Regions from separate parts of the Homo sapiens genome. Here all the other regions are linked to region 7. Evidence: fine-mapped expression QTL. A gene starts in region 7. Each other region holds a variant in brackets. All regions are shown on one strand. Distances are between the middles of the regions.

Region 1 (4,069 bases), 170 kb after region 7:
AGACAAAAGAACTGCCTGGTAGGAGGGGGCTGGTTAAATAACCCCGGAACACTAGGTAGCCCTAGAAGGAATGAGGAAGACTCACAGTGGCCTAGATCTATTGTTAAACCAAAAAGGAACTTTGAGCCAGGCAAGGCGGCTCATGCCTATAATCCCAGCACTTTGGGAGGCGGAGGCAGGTGGATCACCTGAGATCAGGAGTTCAAGACCAGTCTGGCCAACATGGTGAAACCTCGTCTCTACTAAAAATACAAAAATTAGCTGGGTGCAGCGGTGCACACCTGTAATCCACCTACTCGGGAGGCTGAGGCAGGAGAATCGCTTGAATCTGGGAGGCAGAGGGTGTAGTGAGCCAAAATTGCACCATTGCACTAGCCTGGGTGACAGACTGAGACTCGGTCTGAAAAAAAGAAAAAAAAGGAACGTTCAAAATAGAGGGTAGAGAATATGAGAATATGCACCCATTTGTGTTTTTTAAACAATTGCATACAATAAACGGGCTTACAGACGAAGAAAGTTTCTGGGAAGAGACCCAAGAAGCCCCAGAAGGTAGGGGGATAAGCTGAAGAATTGTTAAAGATTTTATTTATTTATTTTTTGAGACAGTGTCTCCCAGGCTGGAGTACAGTGGCGTGATCATAGCTCACTGCAGCCTCGACCTCCTGGGTTCAAGTGATCTTCCTGCCTCAGCCTCCTGAGTAGCTGGGACTACAAGCGTGCACCACCATGCCAGGCTGATTTTTGTATTTTCTGTCAAGATAGGGTCTCACCATATTGCCCAAGTTGGTCTCAAACTCCTGGGCTCACACATTCCTCTTGCCTCAGCCTCCTAAAGTGCTGAGATTACAGGCATGAGCCACCACGCCTGACTGAATTTTTAAAGATTTAGAGAGGGCTGTCAGCTGGGCGCAGTGGCTCATGCCTCTAATCCCAGCACTTTGGGAGGCCAAGGTGGGAGGATCACATAAGGTCAGGAGTTTGGCCAACATGGGGAAACCCCGTCTCCACTAAAAATACAAAAATTAGCCAGGCGTGGTGGCATGCGCCTGTAATCCCAGCTACTGGGGAGGCTGAGGGAGGAGAATCTCTTGAACCCAGGGGGCAGAGGTTGCAGTGAGCCGAGATCGTGCCATTGCACTCCAGCCTGGGCAACAGAGTGAGACTCTGTCTTTAAAATAAAATAAAATAAAATAAAATAGGGCTCTCTCCTCTCTGGCAGTACCCCCACTCCCCACAACATACACAGTAGGGCAGTTTGCCACTTGCGTTCTTGCATAAAGGTCCACAGCCTAAGGGGCAGTGGCAGGAGCAGCGGCAGGAAATATTCCTGGCAGGGGTTCTTTGTCTGAAATTTTCCGCCTAGAGATGGTGTCTTTTTTTTTTTTTTTTTGAACTCCTCAAAGGCTGGGGTTTGTTCAACACACCCAAGGGGCCACCAGTGCTCTGAAGCAACTGAAAATGAATGACGTGGCCCAAGAAAGAATGTGACTGTTGGCCACAAAATGGGGAGTGGTGTTGAGCAAAGAAATTTAAACTCTAATACCCATAATCCCAGCACCTGGCTAGGTCCAAGTGGGAGGATCGCTTGAGCTCAGAAGTTTAAGACCAGCCTGGGTGACAAGACAAGACCCCATCTCTACAAAAAATAAAAAAATTAGCTGGGTGTGGTGGGACACCCCTGTGGTCCCAGCTACTTGGGAGACTGAGGCAGGAGGATCACTTGAGCCCAGGGGGTCCAGGCTGCAGTGAGCTATGACGACACCACTGCATTCCAGCCTGGGTGACAGGGTGACATCTTGTCTCTTAAAAAAAAAAGGGCCGGGTGCGGTGTCTCATGCCTGTAATCCTAGCACTTTGGGAGGCCGAGGCGGGCGGATCACAAGGTCAGGAGATCAAGACCATCCTGGCTAACATGGAGAAACCCCGTCTCTACTAAAAATACAAAAATAAAATAAAATAAAATTAGCCGGGCATGGTGGCGGGCGCCTGTAGTCCCAGCTACTTGGGAGGCTGAGGCAGGAGAATGGCGTGAACCCGGGAGGCAGAGCTTGCAGTGAGCCGAGATTGCGCCACTGCACTCCAGCCTGGGCAACAGAGTGAGACTCTGTCTCAAATAAAAAAAAAAAAAAAAAAGGACAACACGTGGGGGTGGGGTATG[G/T]GTAGAGGGTATTTGCAAACTGTTAGAACTTTTCAGATGAATGAACGGCGAGCACACGTACCTTATTTTAGATTTGCCACAAGGGAACCAGTGAAAAGGGTGAGCCTTTTCTTTTGTTTTTGAGATGGGGTTTCACTCTTCTTGCCCAAGCTAGAGTGCAATGGTATGATCCCGGCTCACTGCAACTTCCACCTCCCATATTCAAGTGATTCTCCTGCCTCAGCCTCCCAAGTAGCTGAGACTACAGGCGTGTCCCACCATGCCTGGCTAATTTTTGTATTTTTAGTAGAGATGGGTTTCGCCATGTTGGCCAGGCTGGTCTTGAACTTCTGACCTCAGGTGATCCGCCTGCCTCAGCCTCCCAAAGTGCAGGGATTACAGGCGTGAGTCACCTGCCCAGATGGGTGAGCCCTTTCAAAACATGTTCCAAGGGGCTGGGACTTACATAAGATAATTATTTGGGGAAGACTGGTTTACTCCTCAGGGCTGTAAAGCCATCTTTTTTTTTTTTTTTTTTTTTTTGAGACAGAGTCTCTCTGTGTCGCCAAGGCTGGAGTGCAGTGGCATGATCTTGGCTCACTGCAACCTCTGCCTCCTAGATTTAAGCGATTCTCCTGCCTCAGCCTACTGAGTAGCTGGGATTACAGGCGCCCGCCACCACGTCCGGCTAATTTTTTTTTTTTTGTATTTTTAATAGAGATGGGGTTTCACCATGTTGGCTGCAAAGCTATCTTGCTTTTCTTTGTTGTGCAGGTCACACCTGGGTCCTGAGCTGGCGCCATCACCGGAGACGCCAGGTGATGTCCATTCATCAGAAATAATGAGCAAAGCAGCTGTGGCTTCTAATCAGCCCATCCCTCCAGGGTGTCAGATGGAGGCCAATTAGTGGACGCACTAGACAACCAAATTCTGCCTTTCCAAGCAAAACATCAGAAAATGTTCTAGCCCTTAGCATTGATGCTGGAACCCAGTGTCTTGCTTCTGCTTGGGTTTTCATGATCTTTCCTTGCTCTGGGTGAGCTGGGGGCTGGTTCTAGATCAGAACCTTCAGAGGCACTAAGAAATGCCACCTGGAGTGGAGTTAAAGAAGTTATTTTTTTTTTTTAACTTCTACTATTGTCAGAGGCGGGTGAACCAGAGCAACTCCATTTTGAATAGGGGCTGGATAAAATGAGGCTGAGACCTATTGGGCTGCATTCCCAGATGGTAAAGGCATTCTAAGTCACAGGATGAGATGGGAGGTTGGCACAAGATACAGGTCATAAAGACCTTGCTGATAAAACAGGTTGCAGTGATGGCCGGGCACGGTGGCTCACGCCTGTAATCCCAGCACTTTGGGAGGCTGAGGCGAGCGGATCACAAGGTCAGGAGATCGAGACCATCCTGGCTAACACGGTGAAATCCCGTCTCTACTAAAAATACAAAAAATTAGTTGGATATGGTGGCGGGCACCTGCAGTCCCAGCTACTCGGGAGGCTGAGGCAGGACAATGGCGTGAACCCGGGAGGCGGAGCTTGCAGTGAGCCGAGATCGCGGTACTGCACTCCAGCCTGCGTGACAGAGCGAGACTCCGTTTCAAAAAATATATAAATAAATAAATAAATAAATAAATAAATAAATAAATAAAACAGGTTGCAGTGAAGAAGCCGGTTAAAACCCACCAAGACCAAGATGGCGACGAGAGTGACCTCTGGTCGTCCTCACTGCTACACTCCCACCAGCTTCATGACAGTTTACAAATGCCATGGCAACGTCAGGAAGTTACCCTATGTGGTCTAAAAAGGGGAGGCATGAATAATCCACCCCTTGTTTAGCATATCATCAAGAAATAATCATAAAAATGGGTAACCAGCCACCCTCGGGGCTGCTCTGTCTATGGAATGGTCATTCTTTCATTCCTCTACTGTCTTA
Region 2 (4,069 bases), 41 kb after region 7:
TAGACCGTGTATAGGGATGAATGCTACAAGCTAAATCCATGAGATGCCAACTAGAAAAAGGAAGAATTGGGGAGTAGGGGAGGGTGGTCTTCATAAGATCAAATTTCAGTTTTAGGTATTCATTTTATATGTCGTGAAAATTAAGAAAGTTGTCTGTTAAAATTCATAGAATATTAACAAAAAACATAACAGGAATAAAAATAATACCTATACACTCCCAGATATAACTGCATGCCACTTAATGGGCAAACCCATAGTTAAGTGGCAAAAATTTGATGAAAATCTAAGTACAGTCATGCATCACTTAATGACAGAGATACATTCTGAGAAATGTGTTATTAGGCAATTTTGTTGTCATGTGAACATTATAGAGTGAACTTATACAAACCTAGATGGTACAGCCTACTATACACTGAGGCTGTGTAGTAGCCTATTATTCCTAGGCTACACCCTGTACAGCAGGCTACTGTACTGAAAACTGTAGGGAATTGTAACACAATGGTATTTGTATATCTATATATAGAAAAGGTACAGTAAAAATCTGGTATAAAAGATAAAACATGGTACGCCTGTATAGGGCACTTACCATAAGTGGAGCTTGTAGGACTGGAAGTTGCTCTGAGTGAGTCAGTATGATGAGTGGTGAGTGCATGTGAAGGCCTAGGACATTACTACTATAGACTTTATAAACACTGTACAGTTAGGCTACACTAAATTTATTTTTAAGTTTCTTCAATAATAAATTAGCCTTAGTTTACTGTAACTTTTTTACTTTATTTATTCTAGAGATAGCTGCTTTCTCTGTTGCATAGACTGGAGTGCAATTATAGCTCACTATAAACTCAAACTCTGGGCTCAAGTGATCCTTCTGCCTCAGCCTCCCTAGTAGCTAGGTTGCAGGTGTGCACTACCATGCCCAGCTAATTTTTAAAAAGTTTTTAGCAGAGACAAGGCCTTGCTATGTTTCCCAGGCTTGTCTTCAGCTCCTGGCCTTAAGTGATCCTCCCACCTCAACTTCCCAAAGAACATTTTTACTTTATAAACTTACATTTTAAAAAATTTTTTGAGGCTGGGCACGGTGGCTTACGCCTGTAATCCCAGCACTTTGGGAGGCCGAGGTGGGCAGATCGTTTGAGGTCAGGAGTTCCAGACCAGCGTGACCAACATGGTGAAACCCCCATTTCTACTAAAATACAAAAATTAGCCGGGCGTGGTGGCGGGCGCCTGTAATCTCAGCTACTCAGGAGGCTGAGGAAAAAGAATCCCTTGAAACCAGGAGGCAGAGGGTGCAATGAGCCAATATCGCGCCACTGCCCTCCAGTCTGAGCAAGAGCGAGACTCCCTCTCAGAAAAAAATAAAATAAAATAAAAAACTTTTTGACTCTTTTGTAATAATACTTAGCTTGAAACACAAACACACTTTACAGCTGTAGAGATATACTTGTCTATCTTTATTCTGTAAGCTTTTTTCTGTTTTTAAAATTGTTAATTTTTTTAAATTTTACTTTTTAAACTTTGTTAAAAACGAAGACACAAACACACACATTAGTCTAGGCTTTTACTGGGTAAAGAATGTCAGTATCACTTTCACCTCCACATCTTGTCCCACTGAAAGGCCTTCAGGGGCAATAACACACGTGGAGCTGTCATCTCCTGTGATGATAATGCCTTCTTCTGGAATACTTCCTGAAGGACTTGCCTGAGGCTGTTGTATCGTAACTTTTTTTTTTTTTTTTAATAAGCAGAAGATATACACTCTAACGATAAAAAGTATAGTAAATACATAAATCAGTAACACGGTCATTTATTCTCATTATCAAGTATTATGAACTACACATAAC[A/G]TATGTGCTATACTTTTTTATGACAGTGGAGTGGGTTTGTTTACACCAGCATCACCACAAATGCAGGTAGTGCATTGCATTTAAACAACCATTAGGATGGCTACGAAGTCACTAGGTGATAGGAGTTTTTTACCTCTATTATAATCTTATGGGACAACCATCATTTCTGTAGTTCATCGTTGACTGAAACATAATTATGCAGTGTGTGACTGGGTATCAAATATAGTGAGAATCAACTTGTGATCTAATGCTTGAATTTGATAAGGAGCCAAGAGAGTTACCTATTTTTGGTCCCAATAATCTAAAACAATAATACAAGTTTGTTTAACTGTGCTCTGAATCATAGCATAACCAAAATTATTGGCATATGTAAGCATGTTTGAATTATAAGCTAAAGCTATTTTGTCATATTTTTATTCATTTATTCATGGAATCATATGCCTTTCTAAAATTTAGATTGTTTTAAAACTATTCTCACAACTTCAGTCATTATTTCTATGTACATAACTTCCAAGTCAATACATGCAGACCTGATCTCTATTGTTCTTGTGCATTTCTATTCCACTAAACCAGTGCCACCTAAAACTTAATGTTTAAAAACAAAATTATCTTCCCCTAGCCTACCTCTTCCTTCTCCTGTCTTTTCTATTTTTCTTTATTTGCTCAGTTACTCAACAAATGTTTGAGTCAACACTGCCGGAAACTAGGAGTGCAAGGGTAATATAAAGCATGGTCTCACTGCCTTCTGAGGAGCTTACATTCTAGTGAGGAAAGGCAAACCAGAGAATACAGTACAGTGGGATCAATGTTATAAACGTATGTACATTGTACTGTGAGAACACAGGGGTGAGGAAGTGAGAGGAGTCAAATATGGCCAAACTATAGAGAGTAAAGGGGAAAGTGGCATAAAAGTAGGCTGGAGAGTTTGGGAGAGGTCAGATCATATGGGACAGTTTGGATTTTATATTAAGAGCATTGGGAAGCCCTTGGAAGGTTTTAACTTGGGGTTCACATAATCAGATTTTTGTGTTAGAAAGATCACTCTGAATGTTGAGTGGGGATAGATGAGAAAGAACAATGGTGGATGAAGGAGAAAAAAACAACTTTTGCTTTTTAGGAGGTTACTGCAGTAATTCAGCAGAAGGAGTACAGGGGCCTGGACTCCATAGTGAGCTATCTTAAACTCAGCAAATAAATAGGCCTTCAGTAACTTTTGCTTGAATATAAAGATGAATGAATGCTATGAGGAAGATGCATGCTTACCTCATTGGTTATTATGAAGCGCCTTAGCCTACTGAGTTCTTTTTGTGTGTTACTTGTTATTATGGCTTATACTCCGGCCCCACCTCCTGAAGCAGGAAGGGCCAAATCGCAGAATGATGAGTTTATTTCCTGTTCACGGTGGAAGAATCTAGGTACTGATCAAGCATCGTTTTGCAGAGTAGCACAGACTACCCTATGAGGTTGGTCCCCAGATGGATCTGTATGTTGTCTCTGATAGCAAATTAAATCCATTAAAGTAATAATGGACCTCAGGTGAAGAGAGCAGCAGTCTCTGGAGGGAGCTGTGAGTATGAACAGGTGATTGGGTTTAAGAGAAACTTCCATATTTCATTTTGGTTTTAAAACTGTTTGGTACCCAGTCAGCCACAGGCCTTATGTATCAACTGGATGAAATAATTTAAGAGGCCTAGAAAATCAGGGCAGATTGCTTTTTTCTATGGAGATTTCCAATCTGAAACCAAATTTTGGAAATAATAAGCAGCTTTATATGTGAGCTATTATTATAGGCAGCTGAGCTCAGCTCATCTTGGCCTTCCTCATAGAGCCCATGAGGGATAAAAATAGAAATACTCTTATTGCTAAGAGCCTGGATTTTATCTGCAGCATGACTTCTGGATAATCTCTGCAAGAAGCCATGCCAGTAAAATTATTCCCTTAGGTTCCAGCTTCCCACAGGGTTTTGATGTGTCAGCTCTATAATTTTATTTGATTTCCTGCTCCATGGTTTCCTTTGCTATTGCTGTCACTGATAAATAAACTCAGGTGTATAATTCCTACCATGATTTACACGTATTATGTGCTATTCTGAGGTCAAAAGGAAACCTGAGACTCTCAGGCTGAAACATTTACCTACTAAAAAGCTATGCACAAGTGTGTATTGGGGCTGCATTCTATAATCTTCATGAGAGTCTTGATTCTAAGTTTTGTCCTCTACCCATGTGTGG
Region 3 (4,069 bases), 160 kb before region 7:
TCATTCACCAAATGTCTTAACTTTTTATCAGGAAAAAAAATCCAAACGCAAACCTGACATTTAAAAAAAAATATTATAGGTTAGAATTTGTTCCTGCTACATTGGTCAATGGGAACAAGTTTAGGCTACACAGTTTTTATTTTAATTTTTAAAAAAATTCTATGAAGAATAAACCCCAAGTAACACATGTGAAGAAAGTAACTTTATATTCACATTTTATTTATTTTGTTATTTCATGTTTTAGTTTTTTGGATCTATTCCACTTTAAAAAAGGCCATGTCAAAGGCCAGGTTACTAAGCTATCATAGAACTACAGTGGTTAATAAAGAATCAAGTTATATGTAACTGACAACTACTAATAAGCAACAATCTCCAGACAATCTCTTGCTCTGGGGGCCAGAGTATCAAAAGTAAGAGTGCTGGCTCATCCTCAAGATCTGTCCAGCAAGCAGCAACGACATAATTATGCTGAGGGTAGTGAGAGTCTAGATCACTAAATTTTGAGCTATGAGGAAGCTGAGCTAGAGATAAGTCCTGGGAGTCTTCAAATTCCAAGAAAAGCAGAAAATGCTTCATAAGAAAAAAAGACAATGTGTAGCCTGGATGCCTGAAGCACAGATTCCATCCTAGAGTAGCATTCAAATGTATTTTTAAACAAGATGGATGGATTCTTATAGGTCCCAGAAATAGTATGGCTTGGTTTACATGCAAGAACTCACCCACAAACTAATAAAGGCAGAAAAAAATAAATGGTCTGAGGAAGTGTCCCGTGATCACTCACCCACCTGAATTTGGAGCACAGCTAGGTCGGCATCCAGGGACCTCTTGGCTGGCAGTAATTTCTGGGTCACACAAATTTGTCTTTGCTTCTCAGCAATCTTCATTTTCAGGAATTGGATCTTTTCTTCCAGTAGATGTATTTCAATTTCTCCATTTAGTTTCATCTTCTCTTGGATATTTATTTTTTCATAAAAAATGCATATTTCTTCTTCCCGCTCTATCAGCTGAACGCCACTATGGTCAAATTCAGAGGCAGAGGCTAAGTGGGCATTGAGACCACCGTTTTACTAGTCATTGTGGTTCCCTCTGGCTTTGGATGCAAGATATACACAACATAGCATACTTCCAGAGGATCACAGATAGTCACCAATGGCTTTCTAGTTAAATTACATCCACACTTTGGAATTCTCTAGGGATAGGAGGGTTACTGAGCCTCTCAACTTTGAGGCTGACCATGTGGTTGGCTAGCCACAATGTCTCTGAAAGTCCCAAAGGTTTTCCTGGGGTGGGAAAGAATGTCATTCCCAATGCACAAACAAAGTGATCCCATAGTCTGATTTTCTGCAGATCCTTTTCTCGGGTCAGACTTGCCAACCAAGGCCTGGCCAGAAGCACACAGGCAGGGGGCCAGGGAATGTAGTTCTGGTGTGAGTCTGCTCTATATTAAGTTGCTAGGCCCATTAGTTTCTTCTCAAGTTGAATATTTCTGGTTGTGATTTCCCCATAAACAGGCAAAAATCTATCCTTTGTAATCATGCCAGGAGAAAGACCCCTCCTTGAATGGAGAATATGGGGAGGAAACAAAGTAAGAATGTTCTAACCCCAGCAGCTCTGGTCTGCATGACCGATCATGCACCACTGATCTGAGTGGCACCTGGGTGCACACTGTTTGTCCAAACGCTTTGGTTTGTGCCAGGAGCTGAATAGCATTTTTTTTCTCCCCTGGAGAAAAACCTACCAGCCCTTTGAAAATGTGCTGTTCTTCAAAGGACCCTAAAGGTCTTCCCACACATTATGCATATACATTATTTCAGAGTTCCTCCTTTAATTGCTTCTATCTATGACTCCCCTTCCTCAAAACATGCATGCATGTGGTTGTACTCAGCTAATCCCAGCTCTATATTTTGTCTGTTTTCCTTTCAAAGGCTCAAGATCAAGTTCTCTTGACAACAGAAGCCAGGAACAATGTTTTACCACTTTTTTGTACTCTCAAGGTCTAGCACTCTAATGCCTTATACAGAATAGCACACAATCAAAGTTTGCTTAAAAAAAATCTGATACCAGATGTCATTATCACAGGGCTCTGCAAATTTCACATTCCAATTTCTCAGAGCACAAGTAACTTGGGAGAAACTGCTGAAGTAAACATTGATTAATGATATAACTGCAACCTGGAAGAAATAATGCTACTCCTAAAGGTCTTACTAACTTGCTGAGCAAATGAACTAGGAGAATGGCTAAATATAATAAGACCAAACTTACCACAACATTGGGTACAAGTTCCACACTTATTTATGTCAATTATGCTGAAAGAATCTGATGTTATAAGAGGCAACCCGAATGACCACTTAGGAAAGGACATTGATCTTCAAAAGCAAGCAACTTTCCCAAACCCCTCCTCTTTGCCTGTTTATGACATAGGACGGTATTTCTTTCTTTCTCTCTTTTTTTTTTTTTGTTTGTTTTTGGAGACGGAGTCTTGCTCTGTTGCCCAGGCTATAGTGCAGTGGC[A/G]CGATCTCAGCTCACTGCAACCTCTGCCTCCCGGGTTCAAGCGATTCTCGTGCTGCAGCTTCCCAAGTAGCTGGGATTACAGGCCCCCACCACCACACCTGGCTAATTTCTTGTATTTTTAGTAGGGATGGGGTTTCACCCTATTGCCCAGGCTGGTCTCGAACTCCTGAGCTCAAGTGATCCACCCACCTTGGCCTCCCAAAGTGCTGGGATCATGCCACTGTGCCCAGCGTGAGGACAGTGTTTCTTATTTTCCAGGGAAGCAACACACAGTCCCTTCTCTCCAAAGGCTAATGCAACCTGAATATCACATTTCCCTCACTATTCACTGTCAAGTCTAGATAGAAAAAGAGGTGACATTCCTCAGTTGGATCCCTGGTGCTCTGTTCTCACACCTGGTTTTTACCTTTCATTTCGATGCTGAACAGCTTTTTCGTATCTTTTGCGAAGCTGCACCATCTCCTCTTCGATCATTGTGATCGTGTTGGCAAGTCTGTCAATGTTATTTAACTGGGCTTCCTTCTTTTCTTTCATTTCCTGAAGTTTTGATACAATTTTGCGCACATCGTTTTGCATGCTCTCTCTGATGGTAACATTGTTGGCGTGTTTCAGCATGGAATTTTGTAGCTTTCTTTTAAAGTAATAAGACAATGGGTAAGATTATAATTTTCTTTAGTTTATTTAAAAGGAATGAAGGCTTCTGAAACACAAGCACTATCAAAGCAGACCTTGCTTTAGTGTAGCCCTTGAAATGATACTAGTAATAATGATATTCATCTTATGATACTCTTCAGGAATTTTCATAATCCTTCCAGGTCTCAGATTTTCTCTGCTCCAGATTAGAACATCTTTCCTTTTCCCCCCAATGTTCTGCTGACCCCCTTTATCAAAGCGAGAGACTGCAGTCATTCATTTATTGTCATTCTCAGGAGACTGCTGTCTTGAGGACAGAGATGGTTATATCCAATAATGTCCACTGGACATAAGGTGGTGCCTGACTCAGCCTGTGGCCACAATAAATGCTGAATGAATGCATGGCCTCTATAAATGTATTTTATTTTCAAGTTGGATGAGAACCTGATTAGGAAATCATATTTTTCTTTTCATCCACCCCCGACCCCTGAAATGAGGCCACTTTATAATTGCTTTGTTGAAGGAAACTGGGCAATAATGGCCATCAGAAAATTAGATTATACCCTGATCGTGTACTGTTTACTAACATAGGTGAAAGAGTCCAGAAGATCTTGGCACATGGTAAATAATAAATGAAGAAAACAACCATTTGCCAGACGCTTTTCTGAGTGTTTTTATATGAATTAGCTCATTTCACAGTAAAATGTCGCATGAAATATGGTATGGATAAGGAAAGTGAGCTCAGAGAGACAAAGCAGCTTGTCCAAGGTTACAGAGGTAATAAGTGGGAGGGGTGGTATTTGAGTCTGGACACCACCTCTTTCACCAATCTGCTATAACGTATTGCCTCCCACAACACATGAGATGCTTTACATCTACAATCAGGGGATGTTGGTTAACAAACGATTTGATTGTTTTCTAACTT
Region 4 (4,069 bases), 180 kb after region 7:
CCTCAGGTGATCCGCCTGCCTAGGCCTCCCAAAGTGCTGGGATTACAGGTGTGAGCCACCAAACCGGGCCTGAATCTTTTTTTTTTTTTTTATGGCAGGGTCTTGGCTCTGTCACCCAGGCTGAAGTGCAGTGGTGTGATCATGGCTCACAGCAGCCTTGAATTCCTGAGCTCAATCGATCCTCCCACCTCAGCCTCCCAAAATGCTGTGATTACAGGTGCAAGCCACTAGACCCAGCTGAATTATGGATTTTTAAGGCTGCTTTATGTCACATTACTAACAAGGATATTTTCTTAACAGCATGGATTGAGTAGGAAGGGTAGAGGGAGATGGCAGTGAAAAAAGGAACTTGATTGCTTCTGTTTGAAATAACTATCTGATTAAAACAACAGCAACAATAACAACACCAACAAAGAGGAAAATATACTCTACCACCAAAAAAAAAAATAAAACACAACAATTTTCACTTTGGATGGACCATTTCCTTTGAAATGAAAAGAAAAAATGAAGCAGTTACACCATGGGTGTCCCTAGCACAAGATGTATCCAACCTATAACTTCTGATTACTCAGAAATTCACAGAAAGTAAATTCAGATAGGATTAAGAAAGCCCCTAGGGACTAACAAGTGGAAGAATATTTATTTGTTTGCACCAAATAGTTGACTGAATACTGAATAACTATTAGCTTAAATTGCAATAAACTCAGTTATTTAACTGAGATCTAACAGTTTGCATTTTTCTTTTTTTTCTCCTAAGCAGCCTCTGAATAACATCTCTAGAGTATCTCACGAACAGAATGACTATGATCTTCATAACTGAATAGCAGCTAGCAGGATTGTTCAGCAATTTTCTAATTTTTTTTTGTTTGTTTTCTAAGATGACACTTGTTAGAATTTAGGAATAGACACTCACAGAGATATTTTTCCCCTTTTGGAAAAGAGTAAAGGGTTGCGTTATCTAGAAACATGCATGTATTTTATGATGAAGGGATAAAGTTTGAAACAGAAGACCAGGTTCTGACTCAGAATTTTGTTTCCTAATCACTGGTTAATCTCCACCTGCTCCTTTTTCCACATCCTTTGGTAGCAAATATGTTGATATTAAGGTTTATCAAGTTACATCAATTGACACATTTAATTTTGTTTTCTGTTGTTTCATGTAGACTATCCCATTAGAGAATACATTTGTAGCCAGAAAACCACCTTGGACTTTTAGGGAGCAATTCCTCCCTAAAAGGGGAGCGATGGTCAGGGCCTTCTGGAATTACTCCTACAAGAACAGGAGCAGGGAAAGAGGATATATTTTGGAGAGGAAGTGGGATATAAAGAGGATATTAGTGCACAAGGATTTAGGATATTAGCTTAAGTAGAGTAAGGACAGAGTTAACAACCCCAATGGGATGAAATGGCTATAATTATTTCTTTGTGTTTCTAGGTATATCTGGAGAAATCATTTGTAATATTAATCTAGAATTGTTTTCTCCCTGAATCTCTGATTCTCTTCCTCTCATTCAACTCAGGGATCTCTTCCTCTCATTCAACTCAGGGAAGGGGTGTTAAAAAGCAGAAAGAACAAATGGCACTCCAAT[A/C]TTTCTGGCTTTTTATTAGTTAGTTTATCTGTCCTTTAAAAGCCCCACAGAAAAGAGAGAATTGGCAGGCTGGACAGAGTATCTTGGCCAGAAGCAGTAGGGAGAGCTGGACTAAAGCCTGTAAGACTAGAGAGATGTGTCTCCACTTGCAAGGAGAAAGCAAGATAGTTTGTAAAAGTCCCTGTGTGGTAGAGACCAAGGCCTCAGTCAACAGAAGTAAGGTTGAGTGTTGGAAAACCCCTGAGAGGAAATGACTGTATGGGGTATTTGAGAAGATGGTTTCCATGGACAAACTCAGAGAAAGGTTTTATGTCCCAAGTGTGCCTGGCAGGAGTGAGCCAGCATGCCAGAGGGGCCGTGTGGAGAAAGACAGAGGGTGTCTCAGTAGCTGTCTGTGTGTGGACAGATGCTTAAGGATAAGAGAGATCCCACTCCTTAATCCCAAGGCACTCTCTGAGAACCCACTAAGGGACAGAAAATCATGAATGGGACTGAGTTTAAGTTTCCCACTAGTCATGCGAGAAAGGCGGCTCTTACAACAAAAAATAAAGTTTTATAATGTAAAGACTGTAGATTTCTTGCTCACCTGAATTTGTGGGCTGAGATTCATACCTGTAAATAGAGTTAAAAAGAACAACCAGTGTGATATTGACATGATGGCTCAAGAGATGGGGATAAGAAGCAAAGGAAGGGAAGGAAAAAGAGCACTACTCATACGAAGTGACAGGTGCTTGAACCATTCTGTCCTGCTGCCTGGAACTAAGAACACCCTGAGTTGACTGTGTAGGAGACTGAAAGGACTGAGCACTTACTGCTTCAGTGTGCTTCCTTGAAGAACAGCTGGAAAGCATCTAGAGCAGTGAGATGACCATAGCAGGAGACCAATATTGACTAATAGACTGTGGGGCCACATTCCATTGTCCACCATGCTGCAACAAGACCCAATGGAAGTGCTTACTTGAGATACTGGGTCTTTGCAGGCTTGAGTGTGGAAGTTTGTAAGGTTCTTGTTTTGGTTTGTGAAACCCTCATGATTATGAACAGTCCAGAGGAGTGAAGAGCCTGAAGAAGGAGAAACTGGACTTCTTGCTTATAAGGCAGGTAGATCTGTTCCACATTGCAGTGCTGGTTCTCTGAATAGCAGGGCATTTATTTAGGCCAGTTGGTCTTTAATTATTTAATATAGCAGATACATAGTCAGTTCAGGTTGAGGATATCTGATTTATTGGGCAAAGTAGATTTTTAAGAGGGCTAGGTTGGAGTTCCACACTCCAACTTTTAGGAATCATGTAATTTCTGGCATGATCTTTCTGACTGTTTCCTGATTTGTCAAATGGAGATTACTGCATTGCATAGTGATACAAAGGTGGAACCATGAGTACAAGTTGAAATCTTAATCTCCAAGGAAGTATTATGGAAGTACAGGAGGAATCATTAATTCTTCCTCAGAAATGGAATCAGAGTGACTTTTGACATTGGGCTTAAAGATTGAGTAGAATTTCACTGGAACAACAACAATGAGAGTTCCTACACAAGTAACAGTTTATGTACAACAATAGTGTATACGTGAGGCTGTGTGGTATGTGCATAAAATCAGTCCTGCATCAATGCCTACCCATGTCATTCTGGCATTCTGCTAGAATCACCTGTAACTCTCTACCTGAGACTTTCTTTTTATTGGGCAGGCTGGAAATGGTAAGTGATGAATGTATGCAGTAGCAGTTCTTGGCCAGTGACAAATGGATTGGAGAATACACACTCTACCTTCCTTGCCCTTGGAGGCAGGAGGGGTTGGGGTTGGATAATAAGGAAGAGTGTTCCTCATTATCTTTTAGGACTCCCCAATGAGATTGAACTCAGTTGCCCTACCTCTAACACCTGCTTGACAAGGCACAAATTATTGGTTCTCTTTCCTTCTCTTTATCTCTCTCCAGACATTTGTTGTTTCCCGGGATCATTTCCCAAATAATATAGCACCGGTACTCAAATCTTTGTCTCAGAATCTGCTTCTGGGGAAACCAACTTAAGACAGAGACATTTGTTGTTCATATAAGGCACAAGGAGAGTCTAGGCAAGAGCTGGTCGGGGAGCTGTTATTTAAAGGTAGTAGTGAAGTCCAGTAGGACATGCTGAGCATTTAGATAATACAGAAAATCGGGAGCCATTAAAAATCTAAACAGAGGGGAAACTGGGAGGAAAGCAAAAGCATATCCACTTTTTAGAAAGCAAGCACAACTAGCTTTATAATGAAATAGGTTGGAGAAGGTAGAGAAGGCATTCTATTGGTGACAATGAAAGAGACAAAAGTAATATTTTGATGAGTAATAATGAAAGCTAAATTTGTGTAGTAATAGAGAATTCGCAGAGAATCTGTAGGACTAGGCAAATAATAGGGTAAGAATTTCAAAGGGAGGAGAGTGTACAGCCATTGATGAAGCCAACATTTTTGACCTTAACAAATGGGTAGGTGGTGAAGCAAT
Region 5 (4,069 bases), 130 kb before region 7:
AAAGGTTCCCTTCCCCCAGAATTTTGGCTCCTGTGGGCTCCCATTACATATGACCTCTGCTACTGAGACCTAATCACAACACTGTAGAATGCTCCCCTCCCTCCACACCTTACCACCATGTTCCTGAAGTCCTATTTAAAGCAATTCCTTTTACCCAGTACATCGTGTCTGGCTATCAAGAAAAAAACTGCAAGGCACACTGAAAGGCAAAAAACACAATCTGAAGAGACAGAGCAACCATCAGAACCAGATATGGCAGGGATGTGTGAATTATCAGGAATTTAAAACAACTATGACTAATAGGCTAAGAACGCTAACAGATAAACTCAATCCCGAAATGGGCAGTTTAAGTAGAGAGAAGGAAATTCTAAGAAATAATAAAAAAGAAATACTCAGCCAGGCATGGTGGTTCATGCCTGTAATCCCAGCACTTTGGGAGGCTGAGGCGGGCAGATAACTTGAGGTCAGGAGTTCAAGACCAGCCTGGCCAATATGGTGAAATCCCATCTCTACAAAAAATACAAAAATTAGCTGGGCGTATTGGCGGCCACTTGTAATCCCAGCTACTCAGGAAGCTGAGGCAGGAGATTATCTTGAACCTGGGAGGCAGAGGTTGCAGTGAGCCGAGATTGTGCCACTGTACTCCAGCCTGGACAGAGTGAGACTATGTCTCAAAAACAAACAACCAAACACACACACACACACACACACACACACACACACACACACACACACACACACAAATACCAGAGATCAAAATCACTGTATCAGAAATGAAGAATGCCTCTAATAGGCTTACTAACAGAACGAACTTGGCTGAGGAAGGAATCTCTGAGCTTGAGGATATCTTACTAGACACTACCCAAACTGGAAAAAAAAAAAAAAAAGACTAGGAAAATACCAGAATATCCAAGAACTCTGGGACAACTACAAAAGGCATAAATACTCATAAGAGGAATACCAGGAGAAGAAAGAAAGGAACACGAGAAATTCCTGAAGCAATAATGTCTGAGAATTTCCTTCAAATTAATGCAGGAAAATAAACTACAGATCGAGGAAGCTCAAAGAACACTTAGACATATCATATGTAAATTACAGAAAGTCAAAGATAATGAAAATTCCTGAGAGAAGTTACAGGAAAAACACACTTACCTATGGAGGAACAAAGAATTACATCCGATTTCTCCTCAGAAGCCATACATGCAAGAAGAGAGTAGAGTGAAATATTTAAAGTGTTGAGAGAAAAAACCACCAAACTAAAGCTCTGTACCTTGTGAAATTATTCTCCAAAGTAAAGGAGAAATAAAGCCTTTCTCAGATAAAAATTGAGGACATTTGTTTGTCAATAGACCTGCTTTGCAAGAAATGTTAAAGGAAGCTCTTTAGAGGGAAGGAAAATTATATAGGTCAGAAACTCAGTTCTACACAAATGAAGAGCATTAGCTATGGAATCAGTGAAGGTAAAAGAAAAGCTTTTGTCTTATTCTTGAGATACTCGATAACACTGTTCAAATTTATAACAGCAGCAATGTATTCAATTACATATGCATATATATTTATGTATGCCCATGTGTAAGTGAAATGAATGACAGCAATGATACAAGGGATAGGAAGGAGGAATAGGACTATTTTGTTACTTAAAAAGTACTTGAAGTGGTATAGTGTTATTTGAAAATGGTCTTAAATTAGTTGTAAATGTATATTGCAAACTCCATGGCAACCACTTAAAGTAAAAAAAGATGTACAACTGATATACTAAGAAAGGAGAGAAAATGGAATTATATTAAATGCTTAGTTAAAACCACAAAAGGCATAAAAAGAGAGAACAAAAACAGGAATGAAGAACAAGCACAACAAATAGAGAACAGTGAAAATATGGCAGAAGATATTAACCCAACTACAACAGTAATCATTTTAAATGTCAGTTAAAAGATTGTCACAATGGATCCAAAAAGAAAAACAAACAAACAAAAACAAGACTCAAATTATATGCTGTGTTTGCCAATAATCCAGTTTAAATATAAAGACACATATATATTAAAAGTAAATGGATAGAGAAAGATATGCCATGCTAACATTAAAAAAAGATGAGTCACTAAATTAATTTCAGACAGAACGAACTTCAGAGCAAGAAAAAGTTATCAGAGACAAAGAGGGGCATTATATAATGATAAAAGAGTCAATCCTCTGAGAAGACCTAATGAATTCTTTTTTTTTTTTTTTTTTTTTGAGACAGAGTCTCAATCTGTCGCCAGGCTGGAGTGCAGTGGTGCGATCTCGGCTCACTGCAACCTCCGCCTCCTGGGTTCAAGAGAATCTCCTGCCTCAGCCTCCCGAGTAGCTGGGACTACAGGTGTGCACCACCACGCCCAGCTAATTTTTGTATTTTTAGTAGAGACAGGGTTTCACCATGTTGGCCAGGATGGTCTTGATCTCGACTTCGTGATCTGACTGCCTCAGCCTTTCAAAGTGCTGGGATTACAGGTGACAGCCACAGCGCCCGGCCAGTGGATTCTTAATATATTTGCACCTAA[C/A]AACAGAACATCAAAATACATGAGGCAAAACTGATAGAAGTGCAAGGAGAAGTAGATGAATCCACTCTCACAGCTGGAGACTTCAACATCCCTCTATCAAAAGTGCACAGATCCAGAAGTCAGAAGATCAGTTAAGGACATAGTCAAACTCAATAATCCCATCAATCAATTGGATATACTTGGCATCTATAGAAAGAAATGTCAGTTTTTCTAAAAGCCAGTCATCATTGTAAATTGAGATTAACAAACAAAAGAAATAAAAACATTAGAAAGTACAGACAGTGAATGGGAACATATGGTTTTGTTCACTTATTCATGAGAAAATACAAAAAAAGTTTATATTTTTATTTTAACTAATAAGATGAGAGGACACGATGCTAGAATGACATTTTGGAAATTGCTTCAAATAGCTTGAATGTTCTAAACAAAATGAGTTCGATATAATTGCGTGTTTCTTCCAATAACCGTATTTTGAACTGTTTTATTGACCAGATTTCCTGAAGAAATCTAGAGAAATATTTTTCATTTTTCTTGCTATTCTTTATTTAATGACTAACTATTAAGTGCCAAAGAAGTCATATGATTTCCCGATATGGAAAGATTTTAAAGTTTGTATTGATCACACTTGGAAAATCATATGAAATAAATGAATACACAGACAATTATGTCCACTGGTTATAACAAATAACCAGATCCCACTAGTCCATAGATCTAGGAACATGAGCTAAAAGCACATGCACACCAGGTTTTCTCATTTGTATACATTTAAGGGATACAAGTGCAGTTTTGTTACATGGATATATTGCAGTGTGGTGACGTCAGGGCTTTTGGTACAACCATCACTCAAATTATATACATGTATACCCATTAAGTCATTTCTCATCCTTCACCCTCCTTCTGTCCTCCCACCCTTCTAAGTCTCCAGTATCTACTAGTCCACACTCTACGTCCACGTGTACACATTACTTAGCTCCCACTTATGAGAACATGTGGTATTTGGCTTTCTGTTTGTGAGTTTTTTTCACTTAAGATAACGGCCTTCAGTTCCATCCATATTACTGCAAAATACATGATTTCATTTTATGACTGAATAGTATTCCATTGTATATATATGTCACATTTTCTTTATCCAATCTCTTGACAGACACTTAGGTTGATGCCTTATCTTTGCTATTGTGAATAGTGTTGCAATAAACATATGAGCGCAGGTATCTTTTGGATATGATTTCTTTTTCTTGGGTATATAGCCAATAGTAGGATTGCCAGATGGATTAGTAGTTCTATTTTTAGTTCTTTGAGAAATATCCATGCTGTTTTCCATAGAGCTTGTACCAATCACATTCCTAGCAACAATGTATAAGTGTTCCCTTTACTCAGCACTCCGCCAACATCTTATTTTTTATCTTTTTAATAATAGCTATTCTGACTGGTATAAAATGATATATCATTGTGGTTTTAATTTGCATTTCTCTGATTAGTGATGAACTTTTTTCATTTGATTCTTAGCCATTTGTCTGCTTTTGAAAAATGTCTAT
Region 6 (4,069 bases), 23 kb after region 7:
CCCTCTATGACCCATTAATCCATTGATTCATGAATGGGTTAATCCATTCATGAGGGTAGAGCCCTCATGACCCAATTACCTCCCAAAGGTCCCACCTCACAGTATTGCTGCACTGGGGACTAAGTTTCCAACACATGAACTTTTGTGGGAACGTTCAAACCACAACAAGCAGTAAAGAGAATGCTGAGAATGGAAACACCCACTGTCTCACACTAGGTGAATCTCCTTAAAGCATGGTTTTCTTGTATTTTTATCCATCTTGAAATTCTTCACTAACTTTTTTGGTGTAGGATAGTCAGTAGACTTAGCACTCTGTGGTTCTACCACAGGTTGCTCTTTACCTACTTTTCCAAACTTTTTATTTGTTCACAAAATAATTGTGTTTACTATGTACTATGCACTGTGCAAAGTTCCCAGGTATGAAGCTAAATAAGAAAGATGTGATTCCTGTCCTCCTAGACTTGCCTCATTGGGATCTAATTAAATGAAAGAGCTTCTGCACTGCAAAAGAAATTATGAACAGAGTAAATAGACAACCTACAGAATGGGAGAAAATATTTGCAAACTCTGTATCTGACAAAGGTTTAATATCCTTTGTTCCTTTGAATCTTCAAGGAAGTTAAACAAATCAATAAGCAAAAAACTAATAACCCTATTAAAAATGAGCAAAAGACAGGACATTTTGCTCATTTCTCAAGAGAAGACGTACAAGAAACCAACAAACATGAAAAACTGCTCCAAATCACTAGTCATCAGAGAAATGCAAATCAAAACCACAATGAGATATCATCTCACACCAGTCAGAATGGCTATTATTAAAAATAAGTAAAAAAACAGCAGACGCTGGCGAGGCTGTGGAGAAAGGGGAACACTCATACACTGTTGGTGGGAATGTAAATTAGTTCAGCCACTGTGGAAAGCAGTTTGAAGATTTCTCAAAGAACTTAAAACAGAACCACCATTCAACCCAGCAATTCCATTACTGGATATATACACAAAAGAAAATAAATCATTCTTCCAAAAAGACACATGCACTCAACATATTCACTGAAGCTCTATTCACAATAGCAAAGACATGGAATCAACCTATGTGCCCATCAGTGGTGGACTGGATAAAGAGAATGTGGTACATATACACCATGGAATACTATGCGGCCATAAAGAAGAATGAAATTATATCCTTTGCAGCAGCATGGATGCGGTTGGAAGCCATTATCCTAAGCGAATTAACACAGGAATAGAAAATCAAATACCACATGTTCTTACCTATAAGTGGGGGGTAAACATTGGATAATTATGGACATAAAGATGGCAACAATAGAAACTGGAGTCTACTAGATGGGGGATGGAGGGACGGGGCAAGGGTTGAAAAACTATTGGGTACTATGCTTAGTACCTGGGTGATGGGATCATTTGTACCCCAGACTTCAACATCACACAATATACCCAGGTAACAAACCTGCACATGTATCCCCTGAATCTAAAATATGAAAAAAAAAATTAGTAATCTTATAAGCTTCAGTACACAAACCAAGTTTTTATTCATACA[C/T]AAATATACTCCTTGTTCATATACTCACAGGAAATATGATGGTATATTAGACCTTCAGATGGATTTTTGCAATTAGGCGCATCTGGCTATTGAGTAAATGAATCCAGTGCCTTTTTTTGGTTTTTCCCAGATACTGATACAAGTCAGTATTCATAAGGTATATGAAATGAGATAAAATGAGTTTACTGAAGATTAATTCTGAGGCCAAAGTTATTCCTTTACTTTTTAGTGTAGTTTTGGAATTATTTTAGAAGAGATAACATTATTGCTTATATTTTCAGTAGAATAAATATGAGTTCCTGATTCTAGGAATACTTACACGTACAAACACACATATGAAGAATAATCCTACTACTTTTGGTATTAGGGGAAAGGGGCTGGGAAGAATGGTTGCAATATTCCATACTTATCATGGAAAACATATTTTCACTAAGACGGAAATCTTTGAAGCTTCTTTGTTCTGTTTTGCTAGTCATACCTCCATGTATTCATTATTCCTATCTCAAACCACTTTAATTCTTGGCCCAGAAACTACTTTTAATTTAATAGACATGGCAAGTGGCCTGAAAAATAAAAGTAATTCTTTTTTTCCATACCATATTTTAGTGTTACTTGGTTGAAAACTTCGCTTTGTGTGGTCTGATAAATACATTGATATTTAGGTTGAAAATGTACAGTGACTACATTTCAGTAATTTTTTTCACTTACAGGTTTTAGAAGTATTGTTTTTCCTCTGTGCCAGCAGTTATGGTGATTTGTAGTTATGCTATAAAAGCTTAAGGTTTGGTAGTAGAGAAAGAAGGTTTGCAGAGATACCTAAGCCAGTTATTTCAGAACTACAGCTCAATCTTTGACTGGACTTGTGATATTGGGAAAAATTGCCAACAAAAATAACATTGTAGATATTCATCCATGTTTTAGCATTGCTATGTATCACAGTTCCTTTCTAGATTGTCTCTAGTACATAAAAGTATCTTTTTCTTTTTGGCAGGTAATATAACATTACAAAGCGAGATGGGTAACATCACAGTAGGTACGTACTAAGCTACTAGTTCGTGTATTTTGTCCACTTTTAAAAATGGGTATATTTGTGATGACTTTATTAGAATAAATGAATTCTACAGTTTAACTGATGAACTTGACAGGATCACAAGTCAAATATAGGCAGAACCAATGTACTAATTATGTCCACTCGAAGAAAATTGCCTGAGCTGGTATTAAGAAATGTCTTATATTTCTTGCTAAACTTCTCTGAAGAAAAAAAAAAGAAAGAAAAAAAGATCTTACAAATTTCTTGAATTCTTCAAATATCTAAATTAAGTCCTTGAAAGAAAGATATAAATAATGTCACTGTTTATTGGGCTCCAAATGTGTTAACATTTGAAGACAACCTTGTGAATACCAATAACTAGTTAGTCAACATGTATTTATTGAGTACCTGCCATGTATTAAGAATTCTTTTAGGTACTAGGGAACATATTGGTCAACAGGACATAGTTTCTGTGCTCAGAGACTTCACCTTCTCTGAGCCCTGGGAAGAAAGACAACAAGCATATAAATAACAAAAGGTAATTTTAGTTTGTGGTAAGTACAATGAAGAAATAAGAAAGGGTAACTGAATAGAGATTGGGGAAAAAGAAAGCTACTTCAGTTAGGCAATTGGGGGTGGTCTGGAGAGGGTACATTTAAACCAAAGCCAGAAAAATGAGAAAGAGTTATATAAAATTCTGGATACAGGCTCCCTAGATAGAGGAACAGCAAGTGCAGGCCTTGAAAATGGAAGTTTACTATTTTCAAGGGAAAGAAGGCTGGCTTATGAGGAAAGTGGTAGGATATGAGGTAAGTAAGGCTAGATCTTAGGACCTTGTAGACAGGGTAAGAGTTCAGACTTTATTCCAACTACAACAGGATGTTAGGGAAGTGATATATAATTTATATTTTAAAAGAACAATCTAGCTGTTATTTCATAATGTACCAGAAGGGTTCAGAAGTGAAAGCAGGCTATTAGAAGGCTTAATTTGTTCATTCTACTGTTGATGGACACCTGGGCTATTTCTAATTTTTTGGCAACTGTAAATAAAGCTGCTATGAATATATTAATGTAAGTCATTTTATGGATGTATATATATTTTTCCTCTTGGGTAAATACTTAGGTATGGCATTGCTGAGTTGACTAGGTAGGTTCTATGTTTAACTTTATGATAAACTACCAGACCTTTTCCCAGAGTTCCACTTTATACTCTCATCAACAATGTATGAGAATTTCAGTTGCTCCACATCCTCATCAACATTTATTATTGTCAGTTTTAAAATTTTTTTATATCATCATTTGTTGAAAAAACTTCCTTTCTCTGATGGATTACTTTAGCATCCTTGTCTAAAATCAAATGACTATATAAGTGTGGCTCAATGTCTGATCTCTTGTTCCTAATTCATTGATTTATTTGGTGAGCCTTATGCCAGTGCCACAATATCATGATTACTGTAACTTTGGTAAGTCTGTAAATCAGGTAGTTGAAG
Region 7 (4,069 bases):
TTTATACCAATCTTAATATTAATAATTTTCTCCATTTTCAACCTTGTATGATCAGCAAAGTAAATTTTCAGTCAATTCTATTTGGTTTTTGTTTGAAAAAGTAAAATAATGATTATGCAACATAGAAAATTATAGTTCAGTTGCCAATTCCATTAACTTAGTTTGTCTCAGAAACGGAAAAATTACCATAGACACAGAATTAACTATTAAGAATTAATATTTAATCTAAAAATGTCTAGTGTTTCTACAGAAAATTTGAGTACATTCTCAACTTCCTTAAACCAGTGCCTTTTTCAAATTTCTTTTCAAAGTTACACCTGTCAATTTTCATAAAAAATAGTTTGAAGATTATTCTGAATAATTATAACCAATGAAACACAAAGACAAGAAAAGAACTATTGCAGTGGGCCCTTGCTGAACCTGAGCTAGCACCTATAATGAGTGAGTCTTCACCGAAAGAAGAATAAGGAGGGAGCAAGGACTAGAAGGACAGAAAAGAGGCAATGATAACTTAAGAGAACACTGAATTTTTAAAAATTTTAAAAAGGTAGTGGCTAGCAGAGAACCTGAGACTTGTACCCATGAGAACTTTAGCCCAGTCTATCTATCACGATAGCCCCAAGAATTCTGGTCATTGTACTTGGGTAAGGGCTTCAATTTTTTAAGGCACTTGCATTTTATGAAATGTTAGTGTTTGCAGGTGTCTTGGCTAAATAATTTAGGGAATACATTTTAGGAGGAAGTAGGGGCACAGAGGGGGAGAGAGAAACCAGGCAGGAAAGAAGAAAAAAAGAAGAAAATAAATCTTTCTGTTCCCATTATTTTACTGCCCATAGAATTATAAAAGGTAAACACACACACACACACACACACACACACACACACACACACACACACACACACACCTTATAGGGTCATTTAGAACCATCTTTCTTCATTTTAAAACTAAAGAAACAGGTCTAGGTGACACAGATGAAGCAGTGGCAGAGCCAGGAAAATAATCTGACCCTTGTCCCTGCTCTTTCCACCGCACCATGGTGACTCTCTTTTTTGTGTCTTTTTTTTTTTCACTCTAAAACTGATGATCATTTGTAGTCAAAGAGATCAATGCTATTCTCAAAACAAGTTCTGATCTCTCATAATTTTCTTGGTAACTCAGAATCAATGTTAAGTACGTTGAAATAAAAATACAGTACTTTACACGGTAATTTGGTAGACTGTGCACCACGGTCCCATCCATTTTCTTACTTGATCCTCACAAAAACCCTTTGAGGCAAGGCAAGGAAGGTATTATCATCTACATTTTTAAAGTGAGCAAATTAAAACCCAAAGTAAGGTCACTTAGGGTCAGGACGGAGCAAGTACTCTATTCCTATATTTGGAATATAGGAGGGAATACACTTCCAAAGAGGCAATTCCCTCAAAAAGCACCAATCTTGCTCTTTACTCTCTTACCAAGGCATTCTCCATGCCCTGGAGATGCCCGCACTAGGTTAGTGAAGCTTGGATCTTGACATCCACATAGGTTACTCCTAGTTTGCACCTAGTTGTCAACTTAAAAAGCGCAGTTTCTTACCCCTTCCCTTGGTCCTGATCCTTATTTAGGCTCCTATTTTTCTCTTTGGGATTTGGCCTCCTGGGTCTCACTCCAAAGCTCCACCCTCTCCAAACAAGAAGTCGCGTCCTTGGTATCCAAGGTGACCATGCAGCTTTACCCTCGTTGCCCCCTTCCGTGCTTCCCATTGGCCAGTGGCCTCCCATGTACCGCCCCTCCAATAGCCAATGGTCTTGAAACAAAGGGCGCCCGCCTTTCCAGCGATTCTAACACCTGCCCTCTTACCCGTGCTCCCCTGCGCATTGCCTCCTGGGATATGTGGTTTCTAAGAGGCGGAGCTCTGCGACTTTCCACCGCTTTAGAACTACGTATCCCGTCGGCCTTAGCGAAAGGGGGTGGACTTAGGCAAGGGGTCCAGGTCAGAGTTCAGAGCTTTCAAATCCCAACTTGCCCCTGGGGATTACGCAGCTGATGTTTACATCGCCTAGTCAAGCCAACCGGCTCGCTCTTGTTTCAGCAAACCCTGACTTACGTCTCCTATTTGACTTGAGGCGGCACAGTGGCCAAGTCGATTGGCCGTGGCAAGTGACCCTCCCTGTGGCTGAAGTGTTCTGAGGACTGGCGAGAGAGGCGCGCCATGCTTGCCCCCTGTTCAGGTTGGGAGCTTGGCTGCTTCCGTCTCTGTCTCCGTCAGGTCCGACTGTGGGCTGGCGCTGGGCGCTGGTCTTGCTGGGCTTGCCAAGCCAGGCCGTACAGCTCAGGTAGGGGCGAGCGCTGGCCCGGATCGGAGACTGAGGTCCCTCCGCCTGGCCCGGCGCGCCGAACTCTGAAGGAGTGGACACTGCAGGTGAGCCCGTTCGGTCGGCTGCGGGCGCGGCTCCCGTGCCACCTGGCCGTGAGGCCCCTGGACCCCCTCACCTACCCGGATGGCGACCGCGTGCTGGTCGCGGTGTGCGGCGTGGAGGGCGGCGTGCGGGGCCTGGACGGCCTGCAGGTGAAGTACGACGAGGATCTGGAGGAGATGGCCATTGTGTCTGATACTATCCACCCCCAGGCGTCCGTGGAGGTGAACGCGCCCCTGAAGTTTGGCAAGTGAAGTGAAGTGAAAACGGGTTTGGGTCCCAGGGAACGCACAGTGAACTTAATAAATTTGGTCGACGTGCACTTTTAATTGGTCCTGGCTTTCTAAACCTAATTTACAGTTGGCCCCTTCGGAAATGCAACTTTTCCTCTGTTCTATTCTTGAGTATCCGAGTAGTATTTAAAAAATTAGGTTCCCAATTATAGAAATTTTATACATCGAATGGAAACACGATTTGGTATAATCCAGGTCAAATTCTATTTCTGGAGCCGCTTGTGTTCTTCTTTATCCCGTTGTCATTAGCAAACTGGCTTATTTTTCAAGGTTGAAGTTTCTTGACAATTCATTCAATGGTATGGCAGTCCATCTACATTTCCCCTTGCTCACAGCCTGGGGGTGTGTCCCAAAACAGCCCTGTCAATAGGATGTTCCAGGTACCACCTGGTTTGAGTATTTGGTTTTAGACGGGCGCCCAGCTTCTTACTGTTATGTTTCCATTCTTTTTGGCCTAAGTTTTCCATGAGTAGCAAGCTTTGAAGAAAAACACATGGTAAGCCTGCCTAGGAAGCTTCAATAATAATGCCTGCAAGATACCTTTCTTAGGTTTTCCTAAATGGCAAGCCACTGTGTACACACACTTTTCTAGGAAGGGCTCCCCAGACTGTCATTCTTCCTGGGACTGAAGGAAGATATTGATGATGATGATGATGGTAATAATAATAGCATTTAGCATTTTTAAGATCATCTTTTATAATGCTTACAGTTGCCCAAATAGTAGATGCCGTAGTCCTCCCTTATCCACCGTTTGGCTGTCTGAGTTTGTTACCTGCCTCAACTGTTGTAGGAAAATATTAAGATATTTTGACAGATCACAGTAATATAACTTTTATTACAGTATATTGTTATAATTGCTGTATTTATTATTATTGTTGTTCATCTCTTACTATGCCTAGTTTATAAATTAAACTTGATCATTGATATGTATACAGGAAAAAACATAGAATATATAGGATTTGGTACTATTTGTGGTTTCAGGAATCAAGTCGGGGGGGCGGGTCTTGCCTACTTTAAGAGAAATCATCAATATTTATGTTAATTCCAAATTAAATATCAGCGTTTTTAATTTTTAAAATTTGTATACAGCGATGCCTGCAGTTACATCTTAAATAGACAGCCAAGGATGGCATTTGTAATTCCTTATTTTCCAAACTTGCTTCATGTACCACTGCCATTTGTCCACAATCTTGTGGGGTTTTTTGTTTGTTTGTTTTGGTTTTTTTTGAGACTGCATCTCACTCACTCTGCCATGCAGGCTGGAGTACAGGTGCACAATCATGGCCCACTGCAGTCTTGACTTCACGGTTTTAAGCAATCTTCTCGCCTCCGCCTCCTGAGTAGCTGGGACTACAGGTGCATGCTACCATGCCTGGCTA

Evidence for each region. PIP is the estimated chance that this variant, and not a neighbour inherited with it, causes the effect.
Region 1: its variant is fine-mapped to the expression of CCDC146 in tibial nerve (GTEx, PIP above 0.99).
Region 2: its variant is fine-mapped to the expression of CCDC146 in tibial nerve (GTEx, PIP 0.99).
Region 3: its variant is fine-mapped to the expression of CCDC146 in whole blood (TOPMed, PIP above 0.99).
Region 4: its variant is fine-mapped to the expression of CCDC146 in skeletal muscle (GTEx, PIP 0.96). The same link has a PIP of 0.9 or more in spleen.
Region 5: its variant is fine-mapped to the expression of CCDC146 in whole blood (TOPMed, PIP above 0.99).
Region 6: its variant is fine-mapped to the expression of CCDC146 in sun-exposed skin (GTEx, PIP above 0.99).

Annotation. Positions count from the first base shown.
Region 1 is chr7:76,952,731-76,956,799 of GRCh38, reverse strand. No RefSeq gene overlaps it. Among named protein-coding and RNA genes, the nearest start is that of SPDYE17, 78 kb to the left of the region's middle. RefSeq lists a silencer at 1,501-1,701 and an enhancer at 1,669-2,535. The variant G/T (reference allele first, on the strand shown) is at 2,159.
Region 2 is chr7:77,078,935-77,083,003 of GRCh38, reverse strand. It overlaps the pseudogene FAM185BP. Among named protein-coding and RNA genes, the nearest start is that of SPDYE18, 18 kb to the right of the region's middle. The variant A/G (reference allele first, on the strand shown) is at 1,842.
Region 3 is chr7:77,279,502-77,283,570 of GRCh38, reverse strand. CCDC146 (coiled-coil domain containing 146) reads right to left here. Exons shown (of 19, transcript NM_020879.3): 14 at 2,918-3,142; 15 at 786-1,014. Among named protein-coding and RNA genes, the nearest start is that of CCDC146-AS1, 33 kb to the right of the region's middle. The variant A/G (reference allele first, on the strand shown) is at 2,512.
Region 4 is chr7:76,942,462-76,946,530 of GRCh38, reverse strand. No RefSeq gene overlaps it. Among named protein-coding and RNA genes, the nearest start is that of SPDYE17, 88 kb to the left of the region's middle. The variant A/C (reference allele first, on the strand shown) is at 1,590.
Region 5 is chr7:77,247,647-77,251,715 of GRCh38, reverse strand. All of the region lies in intron 4 of CCDC146 (coiled-coil domain containing 146), which reads right to left. CCDC146-AS1 (CCDC146 antisense RNA 1) reads left to right here and starts at 3,008. Exons shown (of 2, transcript XR_007060387.1): 1 at 3,008-4,069. The variant C/A (reference allele first, on the strand shown) is at 2,535.
Region 6 is chr7:77,097,423-77,101,491 of GRCh38, reverse strand. It overlaps the pseudogene FAM185BP. Among named protein-coding and RNA genes, the nearest start is that of CCDC146, 23 kb to the left of the region's middle. The variant C/T (reference allele first, on the strand shown) is at 1,550.
Region 7 is chr7:77,120,240-77,124,308 of GRCh38, reverse strand. CCDC146 (coiled-coil domain containing 146) reads right to left here and starts at 1,694. Exons shown (of 19, transcript NM_020879.3): 1 at 1,577-1,694. It also overlaps the pseudogene FAM185BP. RefSeq lists a silencer at 1,909-2,008 and enhancers at 1,904-2,403, 2,404-2,905.